Regions from separate parts of the Homo sapiens genome. Here region 1 is linked to region 2. A link means that fine-mapping ties the variant in region 2 to the expression of a gene that starts in the linked region. Tissue or cell type: whole blood. Region 2 holds a variant in brackets; the other region holds the start of a gene. All regions are shown on one strand. Distances are from middle to middle.

The links. PIP is the estimated chance that this variant, and not a neighbour inherited with it, causes the effect.
Region 1: it holds the start of MEF2A, and the variant in region 2 is fine-mapped to the expression of MEF2A in whole blood (INTERVAL, PIP above 0.99).

The regions. Positions count from the first base shown.
Region 1 is chr15:99,564,501-99,567,258 of GRCh38, reverse strand. It overlaps MEF2A (myocyte enhancer factor 2A), which reads right to left and starts at 1,275. Exons shown (of 12, transcript NM_001319206.4): 1 at 1,155-1,275. RefSeq lists silencers at 775-824, 1,665-2,104 and enhancers at 4-977, 978-1,953.
Region 2 is chr15:99,713,068-99,715,825 of GRCh38, reverse strand. It overlaps MEF2A (myocyte enhancer factor 2A), which reads right to left. Exons shown (of 12, transcript NM_001319206.4): 12 at 1-2,758. It also overlaps a transcript of LYSMD4 not described here. Among named protein-coding and RNA genes, the nearest start is that of LYSMD4, 19 kb to the left of the region's middle. The variant TTAACA/A (reference allele first, on the strand shown) is at 1,629.

The DNA of each region.
Region 1 (2,758 bases), 150 kb after region 2:
GTTAACACATCACAGCAGGCCTTTCTAATAGGGCATTTATTGGAATCCCAATCTCACTGTAAACTAAAACGCAGGTTAACACTATGTTATATTCAAGCTACACACGGTTCCCTGCTGGACCATAACAGGAGGCTCGCTTCACAGCTCCGGAATCTATTTCGGATGTGAGCAACAATTCTATAGTTACACTTTTAAAGAAAAACTGTTTTCTTATTCAGGATTGCTCACCTTTTCCAAACTTGTTTGCACTATCTCACTTACTTTAACCCTCACAGCTCAAAGGCATGAAATCGAGCCAAAAAGCAAAGTTTCTAACACAAAAAATATTTTCTGCGAGCTGGGATCTAGCCGGATGGCAGGGGTTCAGCCAGCGGTTCCCTGTGCAGCCCCTCTGTCCCCGCGACGTCTCCCCGCACGATCGGGCGTCCGCAACCGCAGGTGTCCGCCCCAAACACCGACCCCGCCACTGACATCTACACACTCACAGAATTCGTACCTAAGCGTTCCACCCCGTTAGACCAATCTTCTCCCAAAGCAGAAGTGGGGGAACTTCTTCAAGTCCAACAGGGCAGAAGGCCCCCCGCACTTGGGGCTAATCCCTTCGGGGAGACCCCCGGGCTTGGAGGGAAAAGGGGAAGGAAAGGGCCCTCAGAGCGCACCTTCTCCGGGGTCTCCCGAGAACTCCTTCAACTTTCAAGGAGGCGACGTCCACCACCGCCCCCCGGCCCCAAGGGGTGCGCGCCCGGGGAGGCTGCTCGCCACCAGCCCGCGCGACTGAGCTCCCCTCGGCCCGCCCAGCCGAGCCCCATCCAGCCCCACCGGCCCGCCCTCAGGGCACCCCGCCCCCACCTCCCCGGGCGCCTAGCTCCTCAGCGCCGACCCCGACCCGACCACCCCTCGCCGCCTCCCAGCACCCTACCCGCCTCCCAGCACCCTACCCGCCCCGCCAATGCGCGAACGCGACCCTGGCCCCCTCCAAGCCGGACACGGCCTCGTCCAGGGGTCCCCGGAGCCCCCCGGGCGACCCTCTCGGCCGCGCCGTCCCCCGCCCCAGCACCTCCACCCCAACCCCTACTCGGTCCCCTAAGCGAGACGCCGCCCCCCTCCAGCACTACCGGCGTCGCGGACTGAGCCCCGCTGCCCGCGGCCCTCACCGTATCTCCGGAGCAGCTGGCGGGCGCGCACACGCCGCAGCCCGGGCCCGCCACCAGCGCTTCGCGCCGCCCGGAGCCGCCTCTTTCAGCCCGGGACTCGCCGGGACATCCGCGCACGGATCCCCACACCGGGGCTATTTTTAGGAGACAAGCCTCGGCCAGACCGGAACTCGTTCTGTGCTGCGCGTGCGCACTACCTCCGCCGCCTCGGTGTCCCTCCGCAGCCCTGCCTCCCCTCCCTCCTGGGTTCCCTTCCTCGCTTCTCCCCATCAGTTTCTTTTCAGGACTGAATTATCCTCTCGGTGGGTTCTAGAGTAATTGGAATGGGAAAGACAAGGGTAGGGCAAAGAGAGTCACGGTGCTTGGAAGCGGGCGCTATTCCACAAGGACGTGGGGGCGGACTATGTTTTTCCGGGTGGGTGAGGAGACGATCACCTGGCACAGGAAGAAGATGACGGCGGCTTGGCGCCGGGGCCGCGGGTTGGAGCTCGCTTTCCTCTGAAGGACCGTGTTCCCCTGGAAGGGATACTGGTCACTTGATGAGGGCCCGGGCGCCTCCCAGGGCGGGGCGGCCCGGCGGCGTCGCGCCCTGCCGCCCCCGCTCCGCCGCTCAGCCGCCGCCACCTCCCTGACCAGCCCCCGGGAGCCCAGGCCGGGAGCGGCCCGGTGACGCGGCGCGTGGCAAATCGCCGCGCGTGGCCTCCAGGGCAGCCAACCCGGGCGGTGGGGCGGCGCGGCGCGACGGGACTGGGCGGGGCTCCCGGGGCGGGGGCGGGGCGCGAGGCCGGCTGCCGCCCGGAGTCCGGGGCCGGGCGGGTCCTTCGGGACGCCCGGGTCAGCCTCCTCCCTCCCTCCCTCGAGGCGCCCTTGGCCTCCCCGGGTGTCGGCTCGCCACGCCCGCATTGTGGCCAGGGCCGCACCTGTGCTCGCCCCGGGGCACGGGCAGGTCACCCTCAGGAGCAAGCACAAGGGGACTCTGGGACCCGGGCCCGGAGAGAAAGGGACTTGAAGGGGTCTCGAGGGCGAGAAGGCCCTTTCGGACTGGACAGCCGAGCTCCCCAGGTCCCAGGACAGTAGCAACCTCCTTATCGTGACTTAATAGTTTCTAGGATGCCTGGGGCGGTGAACTATGTGATGGACATTTTGCATATGACAGCTTATGTAATACTTACAAGGCCCCATGAAGCAGATTCAGTTTCTATTCCCATTTTACAGATGAGGAAAGGGAAGCTGAGCGCTAAAGTGACCTGTCAGGGTCACAGCTTCAGAGTAGGGCCCTGAGGACTTGAACTCCTGACCACTCTGCATGTTGCCTTTTCTGAGATAGGTGCAAAGGGGATAGGCTTGGGACAGCTGTTGTGTTTTCTGGGGCTACTGATTATGTTTATCGAGGTCTTTAGGAGATGAGCCATTGTTGGCCCTCTCATCCTGAAAGCCGCTCACCTCTGAAGAGTTTTTCGGGGCCACAGTGCCTGCATGTGCCCCCAGAGGTGCCTGTGTAATGGACACGAAGCCAAATGGTTGTTTGCATTTGAAGATGAGAAATTCAATCCCGCAGCACTTAAAACAAAGTGGTTGGGGTGGGTGAGCAGATGAGCAGAGGC
Region 2 (2,758 bases):
CCACTCGCGGTGGAGTGGCCATTAGAGTACTGAGGAAGGACAGCTGTTGGAAACTGTACTTTAACCAGTGCAATTTAAGCTTTTTTTGCTTTTGTTCTTTAGTAATAAAATACTTCTGGAGGGATAAAATTTTCTTGCAATGGTGTCTCATACAAAACACGAGTCTAAAAGGGTAAGAAAAGACGGTTCTAAAGCAACACCATTAGCGTCGTCCCCTCTCTAGGCTGGTTTCCACCCAGAGATGTGGATGTGGGTGTGTTCACACGTGGGCGTCTGGGTGAGAGATGTCTGTCAAGTCCATATGCTCCATGCCACACTGGACGTATGGGAAAAAGGTTAACAGTCAAATATTCAGTTCCTGAAATGGAATACATTGTTACTTGGTCAGTGTAATTTAAATACAAACTCCGAGCCTTGAGTAGTAGTATTTTAGAAAACAGTAGTTGTACTGATTATAAACCTGCATAGAAAGAAAGACTATTGAGATACAGTCAGAAAAGCCATCTCATAAGGCACACAAGAAAATAGACAGTAAATGTGAATGTGTTAACTCCTATTCCAATGTACAGCAGAAGTTCATGAACATGCATAAATAATAACGAAGGAATCACTTAACACTTTCAAAGCTATAAATGGTTTACAAAGTGGTAAGGATTATTTTGGAACTTCAGTGTTGGGAGACTGTCTTGTTTGGATTAGGTGTGGCCTTATGAAGAAATGTGCCTGTAAGTAGTTCAGTAAAGTAAGTACATTTTTAAAGAAAAATCCTTTCTGAATAAGAGCCTAATGTCTATACTGAAGAGAGGAGACAGCATGTCATCCTCCTTTTTTTGGCCTCTCTCAAAAGTTACTGCCCAAACTGCCATGAGAACAGAACCTCCAGTTTGCAGCCTGTGGTGCGCAGGTCTCTCCTGCACTGATCATACCTATGTGTCAGTCAGGAAATCTGGCTGATGACTTGTCACAAACAGCAGATGAGGAAAATGTCAAAAGGAACGTAATTTGGGGGGGGGGTGGGGGGGGGGGAACAAAATGTACATAGAAATTGTAGGTAGCTGCTCAATATCATTTAAAATATAAAATAGCAATTTTTAAACCCTTGAGTTTTTTAGGAAAAGGAGTATTTAAAAATCTACAATGAAAGATATACAGGACTTTGAATTTTGCTCATGGCACAAGCCCAGTAAGTGGATGAACTTGCTATCATCCATTAGTTGTCTTCCTGAAAGAATAAGGCCTTGTTCAAAATCCAAGCTGAGGGTGGCACTAATTCCAATTAGAATGGCAAGAGTCATGCCAAGGACCAGCACCCTAAGAGTGTTTCTCCCCGCATACCAAAGCATCACTGCAATGTGCAGAAGAGCTGATAACGGTAGGATTTTGTAACCAGCTGCATCGTTCTGTTTTCAGAGGGTCAAGGAAAAAAGATCCCTTTCCCCATGATTATTTTCCCCTAATCATTTACCACTTATAAAACCTTTGTGCTCATCTACTATTTTGCCATTTTCTCTAATATTAATTAAATTAGGTCAGCTTTTTCTACTACATTTTTTCCTCACAAAAGGCAAGTTTTAAATAATGCCTTACAAAATCTGTTACAACACATTTTATACTTATGCAGGATGAAC[TTAACA/A]CCAATTTTTTTTGCCACTTTGCTATTTATGTACACATACAAAATATATAATGATGCTCAACCCATACAGCACAAAGATTACAATGTAACATCACACATTCACCACCAGTGAGGGGAGAAACCCCTTTATACAATCCTCTGAAAAAACTGGGCTAATAATTAAAATCCAAAGTACAGTATATTTAACAAAATAGTAAATATTAAACAGTGAATACTTAATAAAGGACCTCGCCTTTTCCCCCCAGATTGGCGGCAATCCACAAAAATATACTTTTTAATCTGGTGACCATACAATACATAGGTACTTACATCAAAGGTGATAATATATTTAAGATGCTATATACACAAAGAGTTTGGCTCAACTTTTAATTTACATTTAGAATAAGTGTTCATGGCTTTTTTTTTCCAAGGTTCTGCTTGCAAGATATTTTTGTTTTCCCCTCTTAAAATAAAACTAAAGAGTTAAACCAAGATAAAGCTATTCTCTAAAAAAAAGTTACAACATATAGCTTTGGCTTATATAAATAATTCATAGCAGAATGTGTTCAAAAGTAGTGAATATAATTTTATATATAGTCATCAATTCATAAGGGTGTTTTCTTTCATATAAAATATACATGAGCTAAAATCAGTTTCTTTAATTTTTAAGATATGAATGTAAAAAGAAACTTCTGACATATTCCAATTATAACTTAATATATTAATTTTACTTTGTTAATGCTCTATATTTCTAGGCTAGTATTTTCTGAATATCTCATGCGTGTTTTCTATTCTCTTTCTTTATTAGCTAAAGATCACTTCTTGACCCAATACATTTTTGCACGTGCAAAACAGTTATGTGTGGGGCTTTTTTGTTTTGTTTGTTTTTAATATCAACAGCCCTTTCCCATGCACCCCTTTGCAACAGACACCCATGCCAGGTTGGAAAATATAAATGACATTTTATGTACAGTATTGCTTTCTTGGTTCCTGCTTTTCTACTGCTCTGTTCTACAAAGCATTTTCTCTTAAGTAACTACAGTCACTGCACAGTTAAATAAAACAAGTAGGGGGCCCTCTAGGTTTCTGCAAGCTAGTGTGGGAGAATTATATATGGGTACACGTTTCTCTGCAAAAACTGGTTAT